Linked DNA regions of Homo sapiens: all the other regions are reported to be linked to region 5. The links are microRNA targets in miRTarBase. Many come from high-throughput screens and were not tested one by one. Region 5 holds a microRNA gene; each other region holds the end of a gene's coding sequence.

Evidence for each region. Region 5 holds the annotated microRNA hsa-miR-124-3p (UAAGGCACGCGGUGAAUGCCAA, at 3,215-3,236, shown strand). A microRNA usually pairs through its seed, bases 2 to 8, with sites in the 3' UTR of a target mRNA and lowers its output. Matches are read on the target gene's strand: a 7mer-m8 pairs with bases 2 to 8, a 7mer-A1 pairs with bases 2 to 7 and ends in A, and an 8mer does both.
Region 1: miRTarBase lists PLIN3 as a target of hsa-miR-124-3p. Seed matches in the 3' UTR shown: 7mer-A1 at 2,111-2,117.
Region 2: the mRNA of MYCN is a reported target of hsa-miR-124-3p. The part of its 3' UTR that is shown has no 7-base or 8-base seed match.
Region 3: miRTarBase lists E2F6 as a target of hsa-miR-124-3p. Seed matches in the 3' UTR shown: 7mer-A1 at 4,663-4,669.
Region 4: the mRNA of ANAPC5 is a reported target of hsa-miR-124-3p. The part of its 3' UTR that is shown has no 7-base or 8-base seed match.

Annotation. Positions count from the first base shown.
Region 1 is chr19:4,834,539-4,840,479 of GRCh38, reverse strand. It overlaps PLIN3 (perilipin 3), which reads left to right. Exons shown (of 8, transcript NM_005817.5): 8 at 944-2,139. The coding sequence ends at 1,288. Among named protein-coding and RNA genes, the nearest start is that of TICAM1, 5.8 kb to the right of the region's middle.
Region 2 is chr2:15,945,442-15,951,232 of GRCh38, reverse strand. MYCN (MYCN proto-oncogene, bHLH transcription factor) reads right to left here. Exons shown (of 3, transcript NM_005378.6): 3 at 4,229-5,740. The coding sequence ends at 5,136. It also overlaps the pseudogene RN7SL104P. Among named protein-coding and RNA genes, the nearest start is that of MYCNOS, 6.7 kb to the right of the region's middle.
Region 3 is chr2:11,441,442-11,447,382 of GRCh38, forward strand. E2F6 (E2F transcription factor 6) reads right to left here. Exons shown (of 7, transcript NM_198256.4): 7 at 2,934-5,082. The coding sequence ends at 5,036. Among named protein-coding and RNA genes, the nearest start is that of E2F6, 22 kb to the right of the region's middle.
Region 4 is chr12:121,303,099-121,309,001 of GRCh38, reverse strand. It overlaps ANAPC5 (anaphase promoting complex subunit 5), which reads left to right. Exons shown (of 17, transcript NM_016237.5): 17 at 311-757. The coding sequence ends at 522. Among named protein-coding and RNA genes, the nearest start is that of CAMKK2, 9.3 kb to the right of the region's middle.
Region 5 is chr20:63,175,338-63,181,278 of GRCh38, forward strand. MIR124-3 (microRNA 124-3) reads left to right here and starts at 3,163; the gene lies at 3,163-3,249. RefSeq lists an enhancer at 2,410-3,370 and a silencer at 3,658-3,947.

The DNA of each region.
Region 1 (5,941 bases), not on the chromosome of region 5:
GGAGTTTAAGACCTGGGCAACTTAGTGAGATCCTGGCTCTACAGAAAATTTTAAAAATGTAGCTGGGCGTGGTAGTGAGTGCCTGTAGTCAGGCAGGCTGAAATGAGAGGATAACTTGAGCTCAGGAGTTACAGGCTGTAGTAAGCTATGATCACGCCACTGCACTCCAGCCTGGGCGACAAAGTGAGATCCTGTTTCTAATTAAAAGAAAAGAGTCTGGGCGCGGTGGTTCATGCCTGTAATCTCAGTACTTTGGGAGGCCAAGGAGGGCCGATCACTTGAGGTAGAGTTCAAGACCAGCCTGGCCAACATGGTGAAACCCCATCTGTACTAAAAATGCAAAAGTTAGACGGGCGTGGTGGCACGCGCCTGTAGTCCTAGCTATTCGGGAGGCTGAGGTAGGAGAATCGCTTGAACCTGGGAGGCGGAGGTTGCAGTGAGCCAAAATCATGCCACTGCACGCCAACCTGGGCAACAGAGCAAGACTCTATCTCAAAAAAAAAAAAAAAAAAAAGGGCCGGGCACGGTGGCTCACGCTTGTAATCCCAGCATTTTGGGAGGCCAAGGCAGGCGGATCACGAGGTCAGGAGATCAAGACCATCCTGGCTAACACGGTGAAACCCCGTCTCTACTAAAAATACAAAAAATTAGCCTGGCGTGGTGGTGGGCGCCTGTAGTCCCAGCTACTCGGGAGGCTGAGGCAGGAGAATGGCGCGAACCTGAGAGGCGGAGCTTGCAGTGAGTTGAGATTGTGCCACTGCACTCCAGCCTGGGCGACAGGGCGAGACTCCGTCTCAAAAAAAAAAAAAAAAGTTTCGCCTATGGAAAGCGTTTGCCCCAAGGTCAGTGGTAGAACCCCTCTTCCCCTCTTTCCCTGGCTTCAGCTCCGATCGCCTTTCCTGAAACAAATGGTCCTGATTGGTGTCCCCATCTCCCTTCTCAGCAGGTCGAGTCCCGGGCGCTCACCATGTTCCGGGACATTGCCCAGCAACTGCAGGCCACCTGTACCTCCCTGGGGTCCAGCATTCAGGGCCTCCCCACCAATGTGAAGGACCAGGTGCAGCAGGCCCGCCGCCAGGTGGAGGACCTCCAGGCCACGTTTTCCAGCATCCACTCCTTCCAGGACCTGTCCAGCAGCATTCTGGCCCAGAGCCGTGAGCGTGTCGCCAGCGCCCGCGAGGCCCTGGACCACATGGTGGAATATGTGGCCCAGAACACACCTGTCACGTGGCTCGTGGGACCCTTTGCCCCTGGAATCACTGAGAAAGCCCCGGAGGAGAAGAAGTAGGGGGAGAGGAGAGGACTCAGCGGGCCCCGTCTCTATAATGCAGCTGTGCTCTGGAGTCCTCAACCCGGGGCTCATTTCAAACTTATTTTCTAGCCACTCCTCCCAGCTCTTCTGTGCTGTCCACTTGGGAAGCTAAGGCTCTCAAAACGGGCATCACCCAGTTGACCCATCTCTCAGCCTCTCTGAGCTTGGAAGAAGCCTGTTCTGAGCCTCACCCTATCAGTCAGTAGAGAGAGATGTCCAGAAAAAATATCTTTCAGGAAAGTTCTCCCCTGCAGAATTTTTTTTCCTTGTTAAATATCAGGAATATAGGCCGGGTGCGGTGGCTCACACCTGTAATCCCAGCACTTTGGGAGGCTGAGGCGGGCGGAACACCTGAGGTCAGGTGTTCGAGACCAGCCAGGCCAACATGGTGAAACCCCGTCTCTACTAAAAATACAAAAAAAAATGAGCCGGGCATGGTAGCAGGTGTCTGTTATCCCAGTTAGGAGGCTGAGGCAAGAGAATCTCTTGAACCTGAGAGGCGGAGGTTGCAGTGAGCCAAGATCGCGCCATTGCACTCCAGCCTGGGGGACAAGAGTGAGACTTAGTCTCAAAAAAAAAAAAAAAGAAAAAAAAATCAGGGATATAGTTCATATCCCACTTCTTTGTTTACACCGATGTCCCTGAATATCAGCCTGTAGCTAATGGACTTGGGATTTCTGGTCTAAGTGGGCCTCCTGGGGATGGGGTGGTACACTGAGCTTCTGAGCCTCATTGTAGAGTAGAAAGGTACTGGGGCCTGTGTGGTAAGCCTTGTTGAAATGCTCTGGTATTCAGTATTGCCTTAATAAACTTCACCCACAACTGCATACAGGCCATGTGTGTACGTGTGTGTGTCTTCATCTGTCCCTGCTGCTAGAACAGAAATATCTTAGGCAGGGTAATTTATTTATTCATTTATTTATTTTGTAGAGACGGGGTCTTGCTATGTTGCCCAGGCTGATCTTGAACTCCTGAGCTCAAGCGTTCCTCTCACCACGTCCTCCCAAAGTGCCTGGCCAGGCTGGGTAATTTATGAGCAACAGAAATTGATTTCTCACAGTTCCGGAGGCGGGGAAGTCCAAGATCAAGACACTGGCAGGCCTGGCACAGTGGCTCACGCCTGTAATCCCAGCACTTTGGGAGGCCGAGGTGGGAGGATCACTTGAGGCCAGGAGTTTGAGACTGGCCTGGGCAACATAGCAAGACCCCATCTCTACACAAATTTTTTTTTTTTAAGTTAGCCAGGCATGGTAAGGTGGGAGGGTCACTTGAGCCCAGGAGTTTGAGACTGCAGTGAGCCAAGATCGCACTACTGCACTCCAGCCTGGGCAACAGAGCAAGATACCATCTCGGAAAAAAATCCAAGTGACAATCTACAGTGTTTCTCTACGGTAGCTACAGAGAAGGGGAACTTCAGGGACTTCTCCCAGGGACATGGAGAAGATACATTCTCAGTCTTACTAAATACTGCTGGACTGTTGCCCAAATCATTGTCAGTCTTTTCACTCCCACCCTAAGTCCTGAGAGGGTTCATTTCCCCCATCACCAACCACATGTTACTTTCTCTTTGTTAATCCATATTCAAGTTGAATTCATATGCACCCAAGTATATGAATCTTAAAGGGACAGTTCAATGAATGTTACATAGGAATCCACTCCCTATAACCAACAGCCACAGGGATTACTGGTGCGTGCCCCACCATGCCCGGCTAATTTTTGAATTTTACTAGAGACGGGGTTTTGCCATATTGGCCAGGCTGGCTTTGAACTCCTGACCTCAAGTGATCTGCCCGCCTCGGCCTCCCAAAGTGCTGGATTACAGGCGTGAGCCACTATGCCAGCCTTTTTTTTTTTTTTTTTCGCTCTTTTTTGAGACAGAGTTGTACTCTGTTGCCCAGGCTGGGGTGCAGTGGTACTATCTCAGCTCACCGCAACCTCCACCTCCCAGGTTCGAGTGGTTTTCCCGCCTCAGCCTCCCGAGTAGCTGGGATTACAGGCGTGCACCACCACGCCCGGCTAAGGCTGGAGTACAGTGGCACGATCTCGGCTCACCGCAAGCTCCACCTCCTGGGTTCACGCCATTCTCCTGCCTCAGCCTCCCGAGTAGCCGGGACTACAGGTGCCTGCCACTACAACCGGCTAATTTTTTGTATTTTTAGTAGAGACAGGGTTTCACCGTGTTAGCCAGGATGTAATTTTGTATTTTTAGTAGAGATGGGGTTTCACCATGTTAGCCAGGCTGGTCTCAAACTCCTGACCTCAAGTGATCTGCCCACCTCGGCCTCCCAAAGTACTGAGGTTACAGGTGTGAGCCACCACATCTGGCCCCACCTCATCCTCTTGAGTATCTGGGAACTACAGGCGTGCACCACCACACTCAGCTAAATTATACACACACACACACACACACACACACACACACACAGATGTGGGTCTTGCTATGTTGCCTAGGCTGGTCTCAAACTCCTGGGCTCAAGCGACCTCCCACTCAACCTCCCAAAGCACTGGGATTACAGGTGAGAGTCACTGCACCTGGCTCTCACCCGATCTTTTTCCCAATCCCATCAGATAGATGCTATTATCTCCAGGGAAAATGAGGTGTAATCCAGAGAGCCCACCCTCAGCCCCACCTCAGCTACTAATAGCTGAGTAGTAATTTGAACTCAGGCCAGGCATGGTGCCTCACGCCTGTAATCTCAGCACTTTGGGAGGCCAAGGTGGGCAGGTCACTTGAGGTCAGGAGTTCGAGACCAGGCTGGCCAACATGGTGAAATCCCCCTCTCTATTAAAAATACAAAAATTAGCTGGGTGTGGTGGCACACACCTGTAATCCCAGCTACTGGGGAGTCTGAGGCACAAGAATCACTTAGCCCAGGATGCAAAGGTTGCAGTGAACCAAGATCACGCCACTGCACTCCAGCCTGGGCAACAGAGCGAGACTCTGTCTCAAAAAAAAAAAAAAAATTGGACTCAAAGAGTCAAGTTCTCTCCACGGTGCTTATAACCACCACATTTTAAGGTAGCAATGCCTGTTTTGGAATATCATACATGACACATATGTTGACTTGTGAAAGTGTCAAAGATATATTGACAATGGAATACAGTAAATTTTTTTTTTTTTGAGACGGAGTCTCGCTCTGTAGCCCAGGCTGGAGTGCAGTGGCGCGATCTCAGCTCACTGCAAGCCGCACCACCTCACAGGTTCACACCATTCTCCTGCCTCAGCCTCCTGAGTAACTGGGACTTCAGGCACCTGCCACCATGCCCGGCTAATTTTTTGTACTTTTAGTAGAGACGGGGTTTCACCGCTTTAGCCAGGATGGTTTCGATCTCCTGACACTGTGATCCGCCCGCCTCGGCCTCCCAAAGTGCTGGGATTATAGGCGTGAACCACCACGCCCAGCCGAAAGTATTTATTGTCTGGTCCTTTACAACAAACAGTTTGCTGAACTCTGGCCTATGCGAATTAAAAAGGAAAATCAGATCGAAGAATATTCAGTATCATGATCACGGATCTGTGGATATGTGTGCAAAAGTGGAAAACAGAGGCCGGGCATGGTGGCTCATGCCTGTAATCCCAGCACTTTGGGAGGCTGAGGCAGGCAGATCACTTGAGGCCAGGAGTTCGAGACCAGCCTGGCCAACATGGTGAAACCCCATCTCTACTAAAAATACAAAAATTAGCTGGGCGTGGTGGCGCACAGCTGTAATCCCAGCTATTCAGGAGGCTGAAGTAGGAGAATCGCTTGAACCCAGGAGGAGGAGGTTGCAGTGAGCCAAGATCGTGCCACTGCACTCCAGCCTGGGCGACAGAGCGAGACTCTGACTCCAAAAAGAAAAAAAAAAAAGTGGAAAACAGAATGGATGGGCTTGTGGGTGGAGGCTTCTAGGGGAGGTGGTGGAGAGGGAAAGTAAAAAAAAAACTTGGACTTTTACTGGAATATTATCTTTCTTTCTTTTTTTTTTTTATATTTTTTCTTTGAGATAGGGTTTCTCTCTGTTGCCCAGGCTGGAGTGCAGTGGTGCGATCATAGCTCACTACAGTCTCAACCTCTTGGGCTCTGGTGGTCCTCCCATCTCAGCCTCCCAGGTAGCTGGGACTACAGGCACGTGCTGCCATGCCTCATTTTTTCTTTCTTTCTTTTTTTTTTTTTTTTTGAGATGGAGTCTCGCTGTGTCGCCCAGGCTGGAGTTCAGTGGCGTGATCTCGGCTCTCTGCAAGCTCCACCTCCCGGGTTCATACCATTCTCCTGCCTCAGCCTCCTGAGTAGCTGGGACTACAGGTGCCCGCCACCACGCCCGGCTAATTTTTTTGTATTTTTAGTAGAGACAGGGGTTTCACCGTGTTAGCCAGGATGGTCTTGATCTCCTGACCTCATGATCCACCTGCCTCGGCCTCCCAAAGTGCTGGGATTGCAGGCGTGAGCCACTGCACCCGGCCCTCATTTTTTCTTTATTTTTAATTTTTGTAGAGATGGGATCTCACTGTGTTGCCAGGGCTAGTCTTGAACGCCTGGGCTCAAGCAATCCTCCCGCCTCAGCCTCCCAAAGTGCTAGGATTACAGGCATGAGCCACCGCACCCGGCCTGTTTCTTTCACTGAAGAAGAGAGGGGGCAACTGCACCTCTC
Region 2 (5,791 bases), not on the chromosome of region 5:
TTGCCACCATATTAGATGCTGTTTAATTTATTTGCTTATTATGTTTATTTGTACAGCTGTCACTCTCTGTTACACTATAAACTTCAAGAAAGCAGAGAAGATTTGGGAGAGTTTTGTCTTTTTTGTTCATTGATGTCTCCCAAGCACTTAGAACAGTGCTTGATACATGGTAACTGTTAAATAAATATTTGTTGAGAGAAAGAATGGGAAAGAGGGAAAGAAAAAAAGAAAAAAGAACGCTTCCAGGCACGGCAGTGTGTGTGCACCTGTTGTCCGAGTTACTCAGGAAGCTGATGCAGGAGGATCACTTGAGTCCAGAAGTTCTGAGCTGTAGCACCCTATGCCTACTGGATGTCCACACTAAGTTTAGCATCAATATGGCAACTCCTGGGAGTAGGGGACCACCAGGTTTCCTAAGGAAGTATGAACTGGCTGGCCCAGGTCAGAAATGGAGCAGGTCAAAACTCCTGTGCTGATCAGCAGTGGCACTGTGCCTGAGATTAGCCACTCCACGCCAGGCTAGGCAACACGGCAAGACCCTGTTGCAAAAAAAAGAAAAATAAAATAAAGGAAAAATAAAATTCTCACAAGCAGACTGTAGGTGCCTCCCCTGAAATGGGAGAGTAAACTAGTTGGCTTCTATGCCTCTTCCAAATCAAACAACCTCTGATTTCGAAAACAACTCACATCAGAATTTCAAAACATAGCCACCATAGGGATTAATGAAACTAAAACTCAGAAGACCAGATTCCCTCACTTATAATGTGGGAATGTGATAAACTGGTCAAAAATCCTCAAGGATTTTTGAGACTCATGCATACAAAAACTTGGGAAGCTCTGCAGTGCTACACAGGGGTGGGAGGCATTGCAACCTTTTTCACTACGAGTGTAGACCATCTGTGGCCTGAGGCAAGTGTCTGAGCTGCCACAAGCCAGGCCAGGCGTAGACTCAGTGAACCCAGGCAGAGGACCAGCTTCCTCCTTCAGATAGCCCCAAACTCAGCCACTAGGCCCCTCATATGCTTTCATTCATCAGCCCCTCAACCCAGTGCCTCTTGGTTTCTCTTCTTGCCTTCTATACAACCCCCAGGGCTTTAACTCTCTTGCAGACTGTGGGCTCCTTGTAGACAGTCCTCTATGAGCATTTTATCTTCACTTCTTCAGAACTGCCAGCATAGTCAGTACCAGACACTCATTGATGTCTAAGGGATGTCTTTTCCCATCTGAATTAGCCTGAGAGCTTGTGAACTGGAGTTGGTGGGAGACCCACCCATAATGGAAATCCTCTCCTCGCTCCTTCCTCTGTTACCGTCTATACTGCTGGCATCTGCTAAGGCTCTGTCACCTGTCAGTCACAGGGCAGATGCTCAGAATCAGAGGCAAATGAGAGCCCTATCTGCCTTAAGGGAGCCCACAGTTTAGGGGGTCCAGGAGGTGCATAAGGCAGCTAGAAGATAAGTGCACAGAGGCCAAGGGCTGGGAAAGGCCTACCTGGGGGTGCAAGATTGAGAAGGATTTCAATTAATGGAATCTGGGTAACCTAGAAGGAGGGATGTGGTGAAACAAGTCACGGATGAGAAACAGCCAGAGTCCAGCACATGGAGGGCCATGGGCAATGGAGCTGGTGGGACTGGGTAGAAGTGCCTCTGTGCTGGGCTGGAGAGTCGGGACTCGATTCTGTAAATAGTAGGGAACTGTTGGAAGTTTGCATAAAGAGTAGGTGGTTTAGAAGGGTTAATATGGAAGCATGATGTAGGTGGACGGGCAGGCCAGGAGGTGGGGAGGCTACAGTGTGGGCAATGAGAAAGTGAATGTTATGGGGAAGGGCACTGGGCGGGTCATAGGAGACACCGGCTCTAGTCTCCCTGGGTTAAGCCATTAATTCCAGGTGGGATCCCGCACCCTCATTCTGAGAAATGAATTTCAATGAGATGATCTCTGTGCTTCGTCTCAGCTCTATCGTTTATTGAACTAAATGATGTAGAGCTCTTTCCCAGTCTCAAAACTGCTCTTGGAATGCAGAGATGGTTTCTCATGTTATTGAAACAACTAGTTCAATTCTTCTGTGACTACAGCAATTACTTTATAGATAATTGCAGAGCTAAATTTGGTGACATTCCCTCAGCTAGGTCAGAAAAGGCAAATATGGGATTTTTTCACTTTAGTTTTAATCCTTTAGGTGCATATTTGTGGTCCACCTAATGCAAAAACGTTTCATGTTATATACTACATTATATACATTAAAAAGATGACTAACCTAACAATGGAAAACAAGAAACCGTAAACATTTAGAAGAGAATGACCACTGGAGATGTTAGAGGGGGTGGAATTTGGCTCTGAGCTTCCCAGCAGCCCGAGCAAAAAGAGAGCATAGTAGGAATTGTAGTTTAGTGGCCTCATTCATATGAACAGTTTTCTTTCTTCACGGTTAAGCATTCCATTTCATTGGACACACTCAGGTAGGTTCCTTATGGTAATCACAAATAGAGAAACTGGGATGACTGAGCTGGGCTTCAAGAATCTTAGGTACACAATTAATGTGAGGTTGCTTAACTTTCTTTTGGCTCTTGCACACACACAGGGGCAGAGGCCGTGAGTGATTTGGGGCCTGTAAAATGCAAACGAACGGAAGTTTTTTGAATGACAATTCAAAAAGAAAGGGTGCATTATTTTTTAGTCTGGGGATGGGGACTAGGAGAATTAAAGGGCATTTTATCTTATTTTCTACATGGCGAGACCATCAGAAAGATGTCCATGGTAGTATCACCAACCTCGTATCTCAAGGGTGTGCGATAAGCAGGATAAGGAGGACTGAGTTCTAAACTCCTACTTGCCTTTATAAAATGACCAAAGCGGCTGGGCATGGTGGTTCACGCCTGCAATTCCAGAACTTTGGGAGGTCGAGGTAGGTGGATCACAAGGTCAGGAGATCGAGACCATCCTGGCTAACATGGTGAAACTTGGTCTCTACTAAAACTGCAAAAAATTAGCCGGGCATGGTGGCACACACCTGTAGTCCCAGCTACTCAGGAGGCTGAGGCAGGAGAATCGCTTGAACCCGGGAGGCGGAAGTTGCAGTGAGCCGAGATTGCACCACTGCACTCTAGCCTGGGCACCAGAGTGAGACTCCATCTCAAAAGAAACAAATAAAAATGACCAAAGCAGACAAGGACACATGGCTTGGTGTCTCCCATCTCTGCCCCTGACAAACTGTGTGTCCAGGCAAGCAAAGCTGTCTCATCTCTGGACCTGCTTTCTTCTCAGTGAAGCAAAAGGCCTTTTTCTTTTTTTTCGGCTCACAGTTAAAAATCTGAGATGAACAAAACCCTAGAGAAATAACCGAGTACAACCTGACACTCAAAAGAGAAATAGGTTATTTGTACACTTTTAGTTCTGAGAAGCTGCTTACAAGCAAGGCTCTTATGTCCCAACAGGTAAACTATCTCCTTAACACACAAGTCTTGGCTCTGTCTTCTGGAGCCTGCAAGATTGATCCCATTTCCAAAGGGCAGCCCAAGTAGCCAAGACACTGCTGTGTAATAGGAATGGCAAGTAGAGAGCCATGCCACCCATATGGGGTCTCCATTGTGACCCCAGGGTCTCTCCTGCACCTGGTACTTGCTCTGGACTACGTAACTGTCACTCGTGAATTACACTTTGGTGAATCAGGTTGAGTTCATTGAAGGGAGGAACCCATTTCCATCTGTTTATTCTGCTTACTCTGCTTAGCCTAGAACCTCCACAGATCCTAGTGAATGTTTTTAACAATGAATTCTTGGAGACAAACTATGCTCTACCTTAAAATAGAAGACTGTCTGCCAATGGGACGAATACTACCAAAGCCCAATACAAGCGAGTTAAACAACCCTGTGGCTATTTTTACTTTTCTTTTAAAGGGACTGATCTGAGGTCTCAGCTTAATTCCACTAAGGAGCCACAGTATACAGAAGTGCTCTGTAAATTATCAAATGCCATTGCTACAATGCACACAATAGTCGCTAATAACATCTCTATTCTGCATAATCTTGGAGAACTGCCTTAATTTCCCCAAACTCAGTTCCCTCCACCTTAAGTGGGGACAATGACTCATGCCCCCCAACCAGGATTGTACAGGTGCAAAAAGGGCTATTTACGGAAACCAAATTCCCTCTATAGGTTATGGATTATTTATGGTTGCTCCTTAAGGGACAGAGTGTAATGCCATTAAGGAAAAGGTTGAGTTGCATCATTTAATTTTAAGCTATTTATTTTCATAAACATGAGGTATTTCAAAGTGCTATAAGATGCAGCACTAAATATATACATTTTGAAGAAATTAAACACAGAACTTTGCATTTACCCAGTTCTATGCACCAAACATGAACAAATACATTAACAGGAAGAAACAGGCTAGGAAAAAGGCATATATATATAGTAAATTTCTTTACAAAAGTTTCTTAGTTCAAAAAGTGATAAAGTAATATCTACTCAAAACTTTCACAACTCATTTTCATACGAAAATATAAGTATCAAATTTAGTTATGTATCAGCGTCATACTAAAGTATACAGGCAGTGTAAGAATTAGTACAGTACATAACAGAGATTAACAATATATTTGTATACAAAACATGCTCCTCAAACATTGAGGTATTATTACAGTACTTAGGTATGAACTTCCAGTCTAATACTGGCCGCAAAAGCCACCTCTCATTACCCAGGATGTATACAAAAGGCGGATGTGTCAATGGTATTTACAGAAATGTTCCCCAGGGGTATCAAATGGCAAACCCCTTATGTGGCATCTGCTGGAACTTAAGCACCATTTTAAAAAGAAGGAATGACTTTCTGTTGTTTGGAAACTTGGAACACACAAGGTGACTTCAACAGCCCCAGAGGCTCCCAACCGTCACCAACGTTTAGCGCTGTCATGGAGGTGAGGTGGAGGAGGCTGCAGGGCCACCCAGCATCCTGGGATGCAGGCTCTCCAAGGTCCCAGCAGAACCCCACACTGGTGGTCCTACTGCCCACCCAGAGCCGAACTCGACAGGGGACCGATTTGAAAGTAAACCAACATTCTTAATGTCAACACAATGTTTGTTTAAAAAAAAAATCAAAATGTGCAAAGTGGCAGTGACTGTCCAGTTTTGAGAAGCGTCTAGCAAGTCCGAGCGTGTTCAATTTTCTTTAGCAACTGCTGCTGTCTTGCCTGCAATTTTTCCTTTTCCAGCAAAAGCTGGTGCTCCTCGGCCTGGAGGGAGTGGACATACTCAGTGGCCTTTTTCAAAATGACCACCTTGGCGGCCTTCTCATTCTTTACCAACTCCGGCACGTGGTCCCTGAGCGTGAGAAAGCTGGACCGAAGGTCGTTGCGGCGCTGGCGCTCCAGGATGTTGTGGTTTCTGCGACGCTCACTGTCCTCCGAGTCAGAGTTTCGGGGGCTCAAGCTCTTAGCCTTTGGGGGGATGACACTCTTGAGCGGACGTGGGGACGCCTCGCTCTTTATCTTCTTCTGTGGGGGTGCATCCTCACTCTCCACGTAGGGAGAGGGGGCGGCATAGTTGTGCTGCTGGTGGATGGGAAGGCATCGTTTGAGGATCAGCTCGCTGGACTGAGCCCTCCCGGGACCCAGGGCTGCGTTCTTGGGACGCACAGTGATGGTGAATGTGGTGACAGCCTTGGTGTTGGAGGAGGAACGCCGCTTCTCCACAGTGACCACGTCGATTTCTTCCTCTTCATCTTCCTCTTCATCATCTTCATCATCTGAGAGAAAGATGCTAGTTACTCTCATGTGAGAACCATTTGAATGAAATT
Region 3 (5,941 bases), not on the chromosome of region 5:
CTGGGAGGCAGAGGTTGCAGTGAGCTGAGATCATACCACTGCACTCCAGCCTGTGTGACAGAGTGAGACTCCGTTACAAAAAAAAAAAAAAATTTCTTGGGAGTTGGGTCGAATGATGTAGTCAGGTCAGGTCACTTACCAACCAGCAACAACTTACTGAACATTGTATTAGTCCATTCTCATGCTGCTAATAAAGACATACCCAAGACTGGGTAATTTATAAAGGAAAGAGGTTTAATTGACTCACAGTTCAGCATGGCTGAGGCCTCAGGAAACTTACAATCATGGTGGAAGGGGAAGCAAACATGTCCTTCTTCACATAGTGGCAGGAGAGAGAAGAATGAGAGCCGATCCAAGGGGGAAGCCCCTTACAAAAGCATCGGATCTTGTGAGAACTTACTATCACGAGAACAGGATGGAGGAAACAGCCCCCATGATTCAATTTTCTCCATCTGGTCCCTCCCACAACATGTGGGGATTATGGGAACTATAATTCAAGATGAGATTGGGGTGAGAACACAGCCAAACCATATCATTCTGTCCCTGGCCCCTCCCAAATCTCATGTCCTCATAATTCCAAACATAACCCTGCCCTTCCAACAGTCACCCAAAGTCTTAGCTCATTCCAGCATTAACTCAAAACTCCAAGTCCAAAGTCTCATCTCAGACAAGGCAAGTCCCTTCCACCTATGGGCCTGTAAAACCAAAAGCAAGTTAGTTACTTCCTAGATACAATGGGGGTACAGGGATTGGGTAAATACACCCATTCCAAATGGGAGAAATTGGCCAAAACAAAGAGGCTACGGGTGCCATGCAAGTCCGAAATCCAATACGGCAGTCATTAAACCTTAAAGTTCCAAAATGATCTCCTTTGACTCCGTGTCTCCCATCCAGGTGATGTTGATGCAAGAGGTGGGCTCCCATGGCCTTGGGCAGCCCCACTCCTGTGGCTTTGCAGGGTATACCCCCACCCCCACCTTGGTTACTTTCACAGGCTGGTGTTGAGTGTCTGGGACTCTTCCGGGTGCACAGTGCAAGCTACCATTCTGGGGTCTGGAGGACGGTGGCCCTGTTCTCACAGCTCCACCAGGCAGTGCACCAATCGGGACTCTGTGTGGGGGATCCAACCCCGTATTTCCCTTCCACACTGCCCTAGCAGAGGTTCTCCAGAGAGCGAACTTCTGCCTGGACATCCAGGTGTTTCCATACATCCTCTGAAATCTAGGCAGAGGTTCCCAGACCTTAATTCTTGACTTCTGTGCACCCATAGGCCCAACACCATGTGTAAGCCAAGGCTTGGGGCTTGCACCCTCTGAAGCAACAGCCTGAGCTTTATGTTGGTCCCTTTTAGCCAAGGCTGGAGCTGAAGAAGCTAGGATGCAGGGCACCATGTCCCAATGCAGCATAGAGCGGGGGGTGGGGGGGGGGCCCTTATAGGCCCCCAGGCTTGTGATAGGAGGGGCTGCTGGAAGGTCTCTGACATGCCCTGGAGACATCTTCCCCATTCTCTTGGTGATTAACATTTGACGTTACTTATGCAAATTTCTGCAGCCAGCTTAAATTTCTCCCCAGAAAATGGAGTTTTCTTTTCTATCCCATCATCAGGCTGCAAAATTTTCCAAACTTTTATGCTCTGCTTCCTCTCGAACACTTTGCTGCTTAGAAATTTCTTCTGCCAGATACCCTAACTCATCTCTCTCAAAGTTCCATGCATCTCTACGGCAGAGGCAAAATGCTACCAGTCTCTTTCCATAGCAAGAGTGACCTTTACTCCCGCTTCCAATAGGTTCTTCATCTCCATCTTGACCACTTCAGCCTGGACTTCACTGTCCATATCACTATCAGCAATTTGTCAAAGCTATTCAACAAGTCTCTAGGAAGTTCTAAATGTTTCCCACATTTTCCTGTCTTCTTCTGAACCCTCCAAACTGTTCCAACCTCTGCCTGTTACTCAGTTCCAAAGTTGCTTCCACATTTTTGGGTATCTTTACAGCAGCACCCCACTCTCTGTGGTACCAATTTACTGTATTAGTCCATTCTCAAACTGCTAACAAAGACATACCCAAGGCTGGGTAATTTATAATGGAAACAGATTTAATTGACTCATAGTTCAGCATGGCTGGCTCAGGAAACTTACAATCATGGTGGAAGAGGAAGCAAATACGTCTTTCTTCATATGGTGGCAGGAGGGAGAATGAGAGCCGAGCGAAGGGAAAAGCCCTCTATTAAACCATTAGATCTCGTGAGAACTTACTATCACGAGAACAGGATGTAGGGAAACAGCTCCCATGATTCAGTTATCTCCACCTGGTCCCTCCCACGACACATGGGGATTATGGGAACTGCAATTCAAAATGAGATTTGGGTGGGGACACAGCCAAACCCTATCATACACTACATTAATATGAGAAATACCTATTAAGACATGAGCTTACACTCTGACAACATGGAATGGCAGCTGGGAACGTAGCCGCAGCAACTTATGAGGAAGGAAGATGGCCACCTGCGTGCTGTGTATAAACTGCATGCAGGGTAGGAGTAAAGGGGAGGCATGGGTGAAGCCAGGTCCAGAATAGGGATGCGATTTTGAAACACAGAGAACAGGAAGAGGATAGGATAAGAGCAAAGGCAGGGAGATGGGAAAGTTCACTGTGTGCTTCAGGTAGCGATGAGACCAATTTACTGGGGTGAAGGTCTGCAAGGCAGGTACCAAGGCAGGATTGGTAAGCAAGCCTTGGGCCCTTCTATATCCAGAGTCTGCACTTCGGCCTGAAGGAAACACGGATCGCTCAAGGTTTCTGAAGGAAGAAGCGGTGCGCACAGAGATGGGACAGTGAGGTTGGAAAGGTTAGGGTTAGTGAGGAGGAGGGGCCCAGAAACGAGTTCATGCTTATTTTATCCGTTTTAAGAATCAGAGACCCAACGCCAGAAGATGGAGTGACTCGAGAGATACTTCATTTATAACACACATCTGTAATTTACAAAGGATTTTCGTTTACATGATCTCATTTTACCTTCAGAACAATTTGTAAAGGAGAACATTTGCCACATTCACAAGTTAAGGAACTGCTGCTCAGAAATGATGGTATTACCTTTGGTAAAACCTTTGTTGGTTTTTGGGACACTGCCTTCTCCCTCCCCACCCGCCCCATTATTCCTTCTCAGGAGACTTCTTCTGTATTTCTCCTTAAATATAGATGCCCTTAGGCCTGCTGTACTCTTTAGATGACCTCTCCTACTCTTGTGGCTTAAACTATCGCATCTAAACTGACATCTGCCTGACGTACTACACAGCTCAGACTTTTCCGCTGAGCACCTGACCTACATACACACAACAACCTGCTCAACTCTTGCTTTCATCAAGCATGTCCCAAACCTAAGTTTTACCCTAGGCTTGCTCCTCCTCCTGTATTCCCTATTCTGTCAAACAGTACGACCCACCAGTCCAGTGATGATCAGCAGTGCCCCCTGCAGCTTTTCTTTGGCTAATTTCAAATAATAAAACAGAGGGAGGAAAAGCATTGAGGCTAACCGCTGGGGGAGGAGCACACTTCATCCCCAGGTGCACAGAAACACACCGGCAGGACTGCTGCAGGAAGGGCTGGTGCTCAGCAGAGGGACAGGACTGGCAAAAGCCACCAGAGCTCAGAGGTATGTGAATCCTAAACACTCAGCATTATTTTTTAATACTTTGATTTTGGATTCCGATTTTAAATCTTTTTAAACACAGTCTGAATTTGAAGTCGCTTCAAATATTTCTTTAAAAGCAATATTCAAACGATACAGGAATCTTGTACGATAGACAAACCAAATATTATTATTCTGATCTTACAATTCACTCACTCCACTCACTTATTTGTTCAGACATTTATTGAGCACTTCTTAAGGGCCAGGCATGGTGTGAGGCACTGGGATGTAACAGTGATTATGACAAAGTCCCTCAAGGAGCTCACAGTCTAATGGTAAACTACAGAGTAAACTGAGGCACAGAGTGGTAAATGACTTACCCAATGAGGTAGAAACAGCTAGGTATGTGAAAATGTGGGAGCAGAGCTGGAGAGAGGGCAAGGTACAACTTGTCCTAAGTAAAACCCCTTGGACTGACTCAACAGCAAGGCTGCATACACAAACATTACAAAATCTACTTGCAAAAACCTGAAAGGAGTTTCCAATTATCACCATGACTGAATTCATGTTTCACAATGAATTCAGCTATTTCCTGATGGCATTTCTATCCTTGCCCCCAAAGCCACTGGGCATGCCACCAGTCTGCTGGGAGACAGCAATTAGGTAGACAGCTTAAAACCAAGAAGTATCTGACTCCAATTTTAGCACTGAAAACCATATTAAAATACTTTAATTAAATCCACAAACATAAATGTGTAGCACATTTATGATACTTCTACATGTAGAAGTTTGGAAAAAGTCTCTTCTAACCCTCATCCAGAGGATTCTAATAAGTTATAGGTACCAAAGAGATTAGAGAATTTGTCTGTCACTTTCCATATATACATTATTTTGGCTGTACAAGGGTGAAAAGTGTCACTCAGACATATTTCGTAAGTAATCTCAACATTATACAGATATATACAAAGACATCACATTTAAATTCGTGTGTACATCTATGCAATGTACAACAGTAACTGCAAACATGAACCAGTGTAAGGCAATTTCTTTTGTGATATATGACATACTCCTTGAAGGGAAGGGTAGAGTCCACAAAGAACTGTCCATTTCAGCCTGACTGTCTGTCTTCATGACACTCTGTGATGAAGCTACTTCAGGAGGCAAGATGTCTATTTCACTGACAAAAAGCAGTGAATAATTATAAAAGGAGTTGTTTTCAAATGTGGAAACCACAATTACTCAGTAATCTAAGTGGTGAACTCCTCAAAGACACTACTGGCCATGATGCCGCTACTGAGAACGAGAGCACTTCATGGATAATTTATTGCTCTGAGAATCAAATTTGATGCGTAATTCTCCACGAAGATATTCCCAAAAAACTCAGTGATACATAAATTCTCAAATGCCATCAGTTGCTTACTTCAAGCAATTCTTCACTTTGCTGAGGATTTTCTTCTGGAAAAGAACACGAGAGAGAAATACACCTAAGTGAATACACCTAAGTGAAGGTCTGATAGGCAAATACGTAAAAGAATACACAATCTGACTACTTCAGAAAACCCTGAAGATGCCTGGTCAAGAACACGTATTCTCAGGTTAATGGCATAAGGCTAATTTTTTCAGCCTCTCAAGAATAAACTGGAACTCTAACTTGTACCTGAAAGCACCCGTCCGAGAATGGAGGAAACCTTCCCTTATTAGGGCTTTATTAGTTTCTTTTGGAGCCGTCACGACTCCCCCAGTCTTCGTAATCCTTGTGTCTTTGTGCTGTTGTCTGCATGTGGGCAACAGCCCCCTCTTCTGGTCATTACAGGTATTCTTCGTCAGTGAAAGCTTCCTATCGGTCCAGCCTGTGGCTCTGCAAGGGCCACCTGAAGACCACCCTGGCCCGCAGTGCTTGTCAAGTTCTCCAGTTGGCTGGGTCTTTGTTCGGATGTCGGTGGAGCTGTTGGCTGGGTACTGTGATGGCTTCTGCCCAGGCCGGTCACAGGATGCTGGTCCCCTGCTCAGGCAATTCCACTATTTGGGATCTGCTGTTGGACAGCACTGCAAGCTGGGTTCCGAGGTTAGATGGAGTCACTGCTCTGGCCAGATGGGTCCAGAGGCGACGTCCTTAGAAATGTGCAACTGAGGACTGACTCTTGTGGAGTGGGCTGTTGGCTGAGTTGAGTGGGTATTTGACTGCCTGGGTCAAGCAGGTCTAGCCCCTTCCCTTCTCCAAGATGTGCAGAAGGGGAAGTCTCCCGGCCAGGTCATGGGCAGGCTCTTTGGCCGAGTGGAGCTGCTGTTTGACTGAAAGCCTGCCCTATTCAGA
Region 4 (5,903 bases), not on the chromosome of region 5:
AATTTTTGTATTTTTAGTAGAGACAAGGTTTCACCATGTTGGCCAGGCTGGCGTCGAACTCCTGACCTCAGGTGATCCACCCGCCTCGGCCTCCCAAAGTGCTAGGATTACAGGCATGAGCCACTTCGCCCAGTCTTAAAGACCTTTTTGAAAACCTCACCCTAGTGGTTTGTTTTTTCTCTCTCAAAGAATGGAGAATATAAAAGAATCTTCTGGTAGTTGTTGAACAAATAAAACTAAATACCACGTTTTGAAAACTATACGTGAAGGGTTGAGTTAAATGTGTGTGTTATTTTCCCCTTTCCGTCAGCTCTGGAGGCTGCCATCGAGAACCTCAATGAAGCCAAGAACTATTTTGCAAAGGTTGACTGCAAAGAGCGCATCAGGGACGTCGTTTACTTCCAGGCCAGACTCTACCATACCCTGGGGAAGACCCAGGAGAGGAACCGGTGTGCGATGCTCTTCCGGCAGCTGCATCAGGAGCTGCCCTCTCATGGGGTACCCTTGATAAACCATCTCTAGAGAGGACATCCCTGCTGGGCTGCTGTGCAGAGTATAAGATTTTGGACTTGTTCATGTCCCCTCTCTCCCTATAAATGATGTATTTGTGACACCCTATCTTGTCAATAAACAGCATTCTGATTAGTTTGTCTTATTTTGTTGCTAGTAACTACGTATTTGTTTTATTCCCCTTTTCTTCCCTTTTGGTAGCAAAGGACACCAACTTTTTCTTAATAAATGGGTATTTTGCTAACAAGTTAGTGCAAGCATCTCAGATTATGTTCTCTCTGGGCAAAATTGCCAATATCTTGATTAGAAATTGTACACACTCCATCATTATGTAAATTCATTTAGCACCTATTCTCAGACAAGAGCTCTTCCTGGAATTGGTAGATCTCTCCAGGGTGGTCAGTGCAGGTCTGTATGAGGCTTGGACTTTCTTCTGAGGCCTCCCTGCCTTGTTGGACTGAACCAGCGCTTGTGGTTCCTGTGGCTGCTCACGAGGACTTGTTGGTCCCTGACTGGAGATTAAGAAGGAAAAGATTTTTTCATAATTTTTGGACCAATGACCAGGAGCATTTTTCAGTCCCTTTCTAGATGTTGGCTTTCTTATATATTCTGCATGGGCACTTTTTTTTTCTATATTTAACTCTATAAATGAGGGATGATGATAAATTACGTCCAGGAATTCATCATGAGTAAGGTGATTATAAATTAAGGGGGCCGGCTGCGGTGGCTCACGCCTGTAATCCCAGCAGTTTGGGAGGCTGAGGCGGGTGGATCATGAGGTCAGGAGATGGAGACCAGCCTGGCCAACATGGTGAAACCCCATCTCTACTAAAAAAAAAAATACAAAAATTAGCTGGGCATAGTGGTGCATGCCTGTAATCCCAGCTACTCGGGAGGCTGGGGCAGGAGAATCACTTGAACCCGGGAGGTGGAGGTTGCAGTGAGCCAAGATCGCACTACTGCACTCCAGCCTGGCGACAGAGCAAGACTCTGTCTCAGAAACATAATAATAAAAATAAATAAGAAAGGGTCCAAAGCTCAGAGGTGTGAGATGCTATCACCAAATATATAGTGTATTATAGTTTACATTTCTTAACCCTGCAAGTAAGCAGGAGCCAGTTATTGCTTTTTCTGTTCATGAATTTCTTATCCTTGAGTGTTCACAGAAAAATGCCATTGTTTCAAGTCCAAAGCAGCAGCTATATCCAAATAGTTGTGTTTTTTTGTTTTTGTTTTTTTAGATGGAGCCTTGCTCTGTTGCCCAGGCTGGAGTGCAGTGGCGTGATCTTCGCTCACTGCAACATCCACCTGGGTTCAAGGGAGTCTCCTGTCTCAGCCTCCCAAGTAGCTGGGACTACAGGCATGCACCACCACGCCTGGCTAATTTTTGGATTTTTAGTAGAGATGGGGTTTCACCATGTTGACCAGGTTGGTCTCAAACTCCTGACCTCAGGTGATTCACCTGCCTCAGCCTCCCAAAGTGCTGGAATCACAGGCGTGAGCCACCGTGCCTGCCCCAAATAGTCTTTATAAAGCAACAGGGAACCAACTAAATTGTGCAGCTCCTATTATTGGTTCTTTCTCTGTTAAATTTCCCATCAGAAAGTTTTTCTGATGGGGAGTAATTTCTCTTCAGGGCTCTTTGAAGCAGTGTAAAACAGTTGTATCCATTACGGTACATTTGCTGGCCAAAGACAGCTGCTCTGGAAACAAGAGACTTGGTGGAGAGATAGAGACTAATTGGTATGTTGACTGAAAATCTTAAATTCATTTGAAAGGTTATATATAGAGATGGTAAACATTGAATAATATTAAAGGCTATGTAGTAAAAAGTAATTCTTCAGCCTGTAATCCCAGCACTTTGGGAGGCTGAGATGAGTGGATCACCTGAGATTAGGAGCTTGAGACCAGCCTGTCTAACATGGTGAAACCCCGTCGCTACTAAAAATAAAAAAATTAGCTGGGCGTGGTGGCGGGCGCCTGTAGTCCCAACTACTCGGGAGGCTGAGGCAGGAGAATCGCTTGAACCTAGGAGGCAGAGTTTGCAGTGAGCCGAGATCACGCCATTGCACTGCAGCCTGGGTGACAAGAGCTAAACTCTATCTCAAGAAAAAAAAAAAAGTACTACTTCCTCTTAGGAGGTAACTTATCAGTTCCTTTTTATTCTTTCAAGTATATTTTTTCATCTGATGTCATTTTTGATTAATGTATTTAAAGTAAGAGCCTTTCAATTTAAGAAGTGGCCTTAGCTACTCTGCCTCAGCAGAAGGTTGAATAAATGGGGTCAGGTTGTTCAGGTGACCCCACAGATACCAACATAAAAGCTTGATGTCATCACGCCTGACCAGGACCAGCTATGCAACTCATGGAATCCAGTGCAAACTAAAAATGTGAGGCCTCTATTAAAAAGTAAAAATTTAAAAGGCTGGGTGTGGTGGCTCACACCTGTAATCCCAGCACTTTGGGAGGCTGAGGTGGGCAGATCTCCTGAGGTCAGGGGTTCAAGACCAGCCTTTGCAACATGGTAAAACCCCATCTCTACTAAAAATACAAATATTAGCCAGGCATGGTGGTGGGCGCCTGTAATCCCAGCTACGTGGGAGGCTGAGGCAGGAGAACCGCTTGAACCCAGGAGGCGGAGGTTGCAGTAAGCTGAGATCGCACCACTGCACTCCAGCCTGGGGCGACACAGTGAGACCCTGTCTCAAAAAAAAAAAACATAAAATAATTTCAAACAGCAACGGCAGAGCCTTAAACCAATATAGGGCCCTTCTGAGCCCACAGCCCTGCACAGTTTGCACACCTGAAAAGCCAGCCTGCCCAAAGCGCCTCTCAGCTGATGGCAGCTTCACCCTAGCAGGGAGACAGGGCCTAAATCCAAAGCTAATAGAAGGGGTCTGGGGTCTCCTGCTATCTGTGACTTAGATTTGTTGATTGAGGGGCTTGTCTCCTCCCTGATAGCAGAGTGGGTTGAATGAAAAGTAGAGACATTTGTGACCCCAAAACTCAGAACTGTCGGGGTGACAGCTAACTGGCTTTTCTCCTGATAGAGCATTTGGTGGGGGGAAAAAAAGGAGTCAATAATTTCATAATGATGTGATGATGAGTGGTTTAAGGGTATAAGAATTGATCGTCTGGTTAAATGGGGAAAAGGTTAAATGAGGAGGGAATTGAAACTTTTTCTTTTTTTTTTTTTTTCTTGAGATGGAGTCTCGCTCTATTGCCCAGGCTGGAGTGCAATGGCGCAATCTCGGCTCACCGCAACCTCTGCCTCCCAGGTTCAAGCGATTCTCCTGCCTCAGCCTCCCAAGTAGCTGGGATTACAGGAACCCGCCACCATGCCCAGCTAATTTTTGTATTTTTAGTAGAGATAGGGGTTCACCATATTGGCCAGGCTGGTCTCGAACTCCTGACCTCATGATCCACCCGCCTCGGCCTCCCAAAGTGCTGGGATTACAGGCATGACCCACCGCACCTGGCCGGAATTGAAGCTTTTTAAGCAGCAGGCATTCGGGTCTATACCCGAGATCTTCAGGATGTATCCTCTAAGGGAGAGAAGGAAAAAGGTGTTCTGACCTGGTGGCACAGTGGGAACTCTACCCAGCAGCCGTGTGCCCTGTTTTAAGTTCTTAGCTATATTAACACGTTTAATCTTCACAGTAATTCCAAGAGTTAGCAATAGCATGAATTCCATTGAACAGGATAGGATGGAGGCATAAGGGGGTTAAGTTACTTGCTCAAGGCCACGCTGCTGATAGGTTCCAGGGCTGGGCCTACCCTTAGAATTTTCAAAAGTACTGTCCTGTTTTTGTGAACATTGTTTTTCAGTTTGTTGAACACATAAACGATAATATTAGTTGTTATTTACGTAGTGCCCAATGTGGGCCAGACACTGCTATGTACTTCCACACATACCATCTCTAATGCTTGTGAGCTAAACATCATCCCTGTTTTACAGGCAGGAAAGCGGGCCCTGGAGGTTGGGCCTGACCCAGCCCCGACCTTGGTGAGGACCAGAATCAGGATTCAGCCCCAGAAGTGATGGGCTCCACAGCCTAGGCTCTTTCTCACATCACCAGGCTGCCTTTGTATTCACCTCCATACTCTGAATATTTCTACTTGTTCAAAGTGTTTTAAATTTGGTCCTAATATTTTTGGGTGGTTACACTGGCTTTTTTTTTTCCTGTTTCTTTTTCTTTCTTTCTTTTTTTTTTTTTTGAGACCGAGTTTTGCTCTTGTTGGCCAGGCTGGAGTGCAGTGGCGTGATCTTGGTTCACTGCAACCTCTGCCTCCCGGGTTCAAGCGATTCTCCTGCCTCAGTCTCCCTGCCTCAGCCTAGGATTACAGGCATGCACCACCATGCCTGGCTAATTTTGTAGTTTTAGTAGAGACGGGGTTTTTCCATGTTGGTCAGGCTGGTCTAGAACTCCTGACCTCAGGTGATCTGCCCGCCTTGGCCTCCCAAAGTGCTGGGATTACAGGTGTGAGCCACCGCGCCCGGCCAGTTTTTTTCCTCGAAGATGTATGCTGAGACAAATGAAAAGCCTCCTCATCTGTGCCCCCATCACTTCTTCTATGATGTTGTTTATGTTTGGGACTAGTAATCTCACTGCCTGTTGAAGTGAAACTTCTCAAGATCTTCTTTCTGACAGCATTTTTCTTTTCTTTTTTAGAGATAGTTTCACTATGTTGCCCAGGCTGGCCTTGAAATCTGAGGCTCAAGTGATCCTCTTGCCTCAGCCTCCCAAGTAGCTGGGACTGCATGCGCGTGCCTCTGAGCCTGACTTGACAGCATTTTTTTCCTTTTCTTTCTTTCTTTTTTTTTTTTTCTGAGACGGAGTCTCGCTCTGTTGCCCAGGCTGGAGTGCAGTGACACGATCTCAGCTCACTGCAACCTCCTCCTCCCAGGTCCAAGCGATTCTCGTGCCTCAGCTTCCTGAGTAGCTGGGATAACAGGCACGTGCTAACATACCTGGCTAATTTTTGAATTTTTTAGCAGAGACAGGGTTTCACCATGTTGGCCAGGCTGGTCTCGGACTCCTGACCTCAAGTGATCCCCTGCCTTGGCCTCCCAAAGTGCTGGGATTACAGGCATGAGCCACCGTGCCCAGCCCCACAGCATTTTTCTTTCCTTTTTTTGAGACAGAGTCTGGCTCTGTCCCTCAGGCTAGAGTGCAGCGGCCCGATCTCGGCTCATTGCAACCTATGCCTCCTGGGTTCAAGTGATTCTCCTGACTCAGCCTCCTAAGTAGCTGGGATTACAGGTGCCTGCCACCACGCCTAGCTAGCGACAGCGTTTTTCTACTGTCCTGGTGAATGGGAAAAAAAAAAATTCAACAAGTGCTGTAAATCAAAGAAAATGACCCAGGCAAGTCTCAATCATTTTAGGAGGC
Region 5 (5,941 bases):
ACTAGGCCCCCGCGGAGCGGGGGAAGCACAGACCCCAGCCCGGGCCCGGCAGCAGTAAGTTGACTTTTATGAAACCTACGAAGCTCGCGGGGCCACCGAAAAGGTCCCCACCGGAGCGGACTCTGCGGGGCGGGCGGGGCAGAGGCTGCAGGCGGGCTCCCCTTCCCGCGCGGCTCCTACCGGCCGGCTCCGCCCCCAAGCCCTGGACGGCCCTTCCCCCAGCCCGCCTGGCTGGGGGCCGCTGCACACCGGGGGTGGAAGTGGGGAGCCGGGGACCCCGATCGCTACTCAGGACTCCAAGAGGGGCCGGGTTCTTCTAGGGATGTACAAAAATCTAGGGTGACCCAAGGGAAGGGGGCGACCCCCAGCCTTCCACCTTACCCACCCCGGCCTGCCAGAGAGCCCTCCGCCAAAGGTAAAGTGGGAAGGACGAAGGTGCTCCGCCAGGTGAGGGAACAGGTCTGCCAGGGGCGGCGATCCACCCTGCCCCAGGTGGAGCCGGTCCTGTACGGAAAAGAGACCCAAAGAAAGATTTGGGGTCCCCGAAGCCAAGGTACCGATGGGGGGTGCTAAGGAGTCTTTCCCCTTAGAATGGGAACAAGCTCCAAGGAGCTGGAATCCCGAGGCGTCCTGGACCCGTCCAGGAAGCTAAGGGTGGGGGACGGGAGGGGAGGGGGCCGGGAGCCGGCCTCCCTGGCCCCAACCCTTGGTGAGAAGAGGGCTGGGGGTATAAAGTCCGAAAGTGAGGCGGAGGTTTCAGGGTTCCGTTTCAACACCATGGACAGCGGATGCCTCAGACTGGGAGCCTAGGACCGCCCTGGGGACTGCCCCCGTTTCATTAGGGTGAGGGTCCGATTCCGACCACTGGAGGCCAAGGGCAACTGTCTCCAATGAAGCGGGGCTGCTGCAGCCTGGCCTCCCCAGCCCTCCAGCCCCTCCAGCGTCCGGCTTGCACCTGCTGAGGCTGCCGGCACCCGCAGGCTTGGGGCAGCTTCCAGAGCTTTGCGCTTGGAACAGAAGGTTCCCCTTGGGCTGTGGAGGAGTAGAGGGCTTGTGCGTGACCTGTGAGAAAGAAAGATTGTCCCTGACACTTGCGAAGGGCGAGGAATTGCGGCTGGGAAGGGTCAGGTTGAAGCCGCACCAAAGGGGGAGGGGCGTCCTGATGGTTGAGGACCGGCGGAGTCGGTGCGGGCAGAACCAACCCGAGTTCCTGCCGCCCTTCCTAACCGGCTGTCCATGGGCTGGGCAGTGCTGGAGAGGGTGGAAAAGGAAGGAAGCAGGACCTGCTCCCAGGGAGGCCCAGGCTCTGCTCCGAGGGCAGATGGCGCAGGGGCTGGGTTGGCCCTAGGAGGAAGGAGATGGGGACAGAGGCCTGCCGGCCGCGCCGGCCTGCGCTCCTTGCAGTCTAAACAAAGGCCAGCGGGGGAGGCTCCGGACGGTGAGGCTTGGGGAAGCCACTGATCCCTGGCCCTAGAGGGCCAGATCGGGGGCGCCCCAAGGACCCTATCGAGCTGGCAGTGACTGCAGTCGGGCCGTGGAGTGTCGCCTGTGATTCCGTGGTCCCTACGGGCAAGAGCTCCCATCCCGGTCTGAAACTGTGAGAACCGCAAGCTCCGATGGGGGCGGGGAAGGACGACCTTTAATTCCCACCCCACTGTACGGAGCCCAGCAGGGCCATCCGCAGGAGGCCGGCGGGACCCTTGCCTTTCTCAGGACTGAGAGGCTTGGAGGACCGCGGTGTGAGCTGCGCGGCAGAGTGCGTTCTGCAGGCGCCAGACAGGAGACGCGAACCCGCGGTCAGGGCCCGAGTGCGGGTGCGTGTCTGCGGGTGCCGCTGGGCTGCGTGCCGGCGAGGCGTGCGCGTGGCGAGGCGTGCGCGTGGCGGGGTGTGGCTAGAGGTGTCAATGTGCAGCTGGAGGGGCTGCGCGCGTGGGTGCAGGAGGGCCATGTGAGGGGCTGGAGTGTGTGGGAGACAGGCGTTTCCTTGGGTCTCCGTGTGGCCGCCGGGCGCAGGGCACGGTCGAGGGCGCTCGATGGCTGAGTCCGCGTGAGCCGAGGAGCGCGCGGGGCGGGACGCGGTGCGAATGCGCGGGAGGCACGAGGCGCGCAGTGCGTGTGTGCGCGTGTGCGCGGCGCGCGTGCCCCGCAGTTCTCAAGGACACCTCGGGGAGGCAGCGGCGGGGCCGGTGTCCGGGTGACGTCACCGCGCGCCCCAGTGATAATCGGCCGGTGCCGGAGCGGAGCGCGGATACGCGCGGAGGCAACGGCGACGGCGGCGGCGGCGGCGGGCGCGGGGACAGTTGCATCGGGGCCGGGCCGGGCTAGCAGGAGCTGGGCGCCTGCAGCGTGGACCCCGTGGACACTCGGCTCGCAGCCGGCCTGCGGCGCTCGGGGACTTGCCTGGCTCCCTTCTCGGGGTTCCCGCGCCCTTCTCCGCCCAGGGCAGCAGCGCGCGGGGCCCCCGGGAGCCGAAGAGCAGGCGGGAACTGGCGGCGGCGCGGGAGGCGCAGGGAGCGGAGGCGGCAGCAGCGGCTCCCGCCGGGACTGGTAATTACGCTCGGGGCCGGGCCGGGGCGAGCCGGGCAAGCGGCCTCTCTGGGTCTCCCCGTCTTTCTCTCCACGAACAGCTCGAGCGCCTTCTCGCGGGCCCGCTGCGCGCGGAGAGGACGAGCTCGCTGGGTTGTAAAAAGAGACGAGTTTTCATCTTTGAGCATCGAGATTCGTTCTTTTAACCGCATTCGGTGCGCGCTCCTGGGTCGGCACGGGCAGGGCGACGGCAGGGGAAGGCAGCTGCGGAGGAGCTCGCGCCGCCCAGTCGGAGCGGTTCTGCGCCCCTCGGAGCCCCGCGGGAGGCGGCCGGGTGCGCACGCGCTCACCACCCCCACCCCCGGAATCCGTCTTCGCGATTCCCGGGCGCCCCAGCTCCAGGAACGCCCGGAGGGACGCACTTGGGGGCCCACTCTCTGCCGCGGAAAGGGGAGAAGTGTGGGCTCCTCCGAGTCGGGGGCGGACTGGGACAGCACAGTCGGCTGAGCGCAGCGCCCCCGCCCTGCCCGCCACGCGGCGAAGACGCCTGAGCGTTCGCGCCCCTCGGGCGAGGACCCCACGCAAGCCCGAGCCGGTCCCGACCCTGGCCCCGACGCTCGCCGCCCGCCCCAGCCCTGAGGGCCCCTCTGCGTGTTCACAGCGGACCTTGATTTAATGTCTATACAATTAAGGCACGCGGTGAATGCCAAGAGAGGCGCCTCCGCCGCTCCTTTCTCATGGAAATGGCCCGCGAGCCCGTCCGGCCCAGCGCCCCTCCCGCGGGAGGAAGGCGAGCCCGGCCCCCGGCGGCCATTCGCGCCGCGGACAAATCCGGCGAACAATGCGCCCGCCCAGAGTGCGGCCCAGCTGCCGGGCCGGGGATCTGGCCGCGGGACACAAAGGGGCCCGCACGCCTCTGGCGTCGCGGGGCGGGTGGGGGCGGCCGAGGGCGGCCGAGGGGGGAGCCTGCGGCCGGGGCCAGGCTGCGGCCAGCCGGCCCCCGGCCACGTGTGTCCGCAGCGCGGAGCGCCCAGGCGCCCGCAGAGGGCGGCGGGGCCCGGGAGACAAAGGGAGGGTCCACGGGGAGCGGCGGGCGGGTGCGTGGGGCGGCGGGCTAGGGTGCGGCGCTGTCCGCGGTGCTGGCGGCGGGGCGGCCCCCGCGGGACGGGAGGGCGGCCAAGTGCGGCCCTCGCCCCCACAGCGGGCGCCCTGGACAGTTGCCACGGCAACGTGGGAGGAGGTGGGGCAGGGTCTGAGGTCACCGCTAAGTCTGCCCTTCCTCGGGCCGCTGCGCCGCGGGGCGGGGCGGAGGCGGCGCTCGCTGTGGCCCCAGAGCAGCCCCCGCAGCCCAGGACCAGGCTTGCATGGGGACGGGGGTCTGCGTCCGCGTCCAGGGTCCAAACGAGGGCGGTGGACACGCCGGACCGCATCCCGCCCCCAAAGCCGGCTCTGGGCTGTGCAGGACCAGGCACGTGAGACTCCGCAGCCCAGGGAGAAAATGACAAATCCCTCCCCCGCCGCCATCTGCAGCCGCAGTGACACCCACTCGGGTTTGCTGCAGGGGTTTTTTTTCTGTCCCCGGAAGCCAGCGCCACCTGCTGACGCCCGGCACCGCCTCTGCGCCGCCTCCCCCGCGCCCATCCCAGGCCCCGGCTGGGCTGTGATGCCCCGGTAACAGTCAGAGGACGACCCCCTCCCCAAAAGCCCCCTTCCCCTGGGGCGAGTGCCAGACCTGGCTTTGCAGCTTTGCCTCTTTCCTCTTAACCAGGTAGAGGCTGAGCCTCTCCTCCCCGGCTTCAATCCGAGGCAGGAGTCTGAGTCACCTGAAGTTCTCCCAGCTCCAGGCCCAAGGCAGGGAGCAGAAGATCAGGATAAAAGGAACCATTTGAGTTTCAGGCAGTGGCATCTCCACCCCCACCACCGCCGCTGCAGGGCCACAAAGGGAACCTGCCTCTGCGGCTGTCCTCAGCACAGACCTCCAGCCCCTCCACCCAAGTCGCCTGCTGCAGACACAAGCAGGAGCCACTGGTGCCTCCATCTTCCCACCCCCACCCCAGTCAGCCAGGCAGAGTCAGAACACGGTCCACCAGTCTCCTCAGGGGCAGGTTCCCCCTGGAGGGCACAGAAGTGGCATAGGCAGCCCCAGCAAGCCCCGGCCTGACCACAACACTGACCCCGGGGCTTGGCGTCCCCTTCTTCCTTCCTCCCGCTGTGAGGGGACAGGCAGCATCCCCCAGGGGCACTTCTGGTCCTAGAGAAGGGGAAGGGGCCCCAGGATCGTTCCAGGACAACACCAAAGGGACTGGTGGGAGTGGGGTGTTCCTTCGGGGTACAAGATGTGGCCCTAGCCTAGCTGGAGCTTCCTCTTGGAGCTCTGACCTCCAGCCTGGCCCTTCCCTCGGAGGGAAGGTGGCCCCTGGCTGCTCCCTCCTCTGGGGCCAGAGATGGGGGCTGGGGCTTTGTTCTTGTACCACTTTCCTTCCTGGGGAGGGGACTTGGCTCCTAGCCAGAATGGACCTTCCATGTCAGTAGCCTGGGGAGGGGGACACTTGAGAGCTGGTGGGAGCGCATGGGCAAACTGCCCTTGGCACTGTCCCTAGACAGTCAGTCTCTGTGGGGTCTCCTAGGAAGAGCTTCCTGGACTCTGTCACGGTCAGGGAGCTACCTCTCCTGATGCCTGCCCCCAGTGGTGCACCTGGGCCCCAGCCCCCAGGGCAGACTTGTGGCTTCTGGGCTGGAGCTCAGGGGGTCACAGGAAGGTGGGCAGCCCAGTAGGTATGGGGCACACGGGGGGAAGCTCACTGCGAAGGAGCTGCAGAGCTGAGTGCGCACCTTCTTGGGCCAGGCCTTACCATAGCTGTAGCACCGTCTGCCGCAGTGCGGGGAGGGCCCCATGTGCCACAGGGTCCACTCGGACCTGCAGCAGCTGAGCTGCTGGCCTCAGTGAGAGGCCCTTGGGGCAGGGGCCACCATCACCATGCTTTGCAGCCAACATGGACTGCCCTGCATGTCCAGCTCAGCCTCTCCTCCTCCTGCTCACACCCGCAGCCACAGTCACAGACATGCTCACACAGTCTCACCTCCCACGCACACACAGACACTGCCCGCCTCCACTCAGGAAGAGCTGGGCACATACCCCCAACTGAATCCTCAGCACCCAGCCTGCATTGGGTCGGCTGCCAGGCAGTGGTCCTGGTGGACAGCAAACTTGAGCCAAGGGCTTGGGACACCCTCTGACCAGACCATGACACCCAGCAAGGCCAGCTCAGGGCTATCCAGCAGGGCCCTCCCCAGTGTGGGACCAGAGGAAGACATCCCTTCCCTGACCCAAAGATTTTTATTCTGAATAAAACCTAATAAAGCTGCTGAGGCTGAAGCCACAGGCCCCACAGTCCCCTCTGAAATTCCTCCAAAT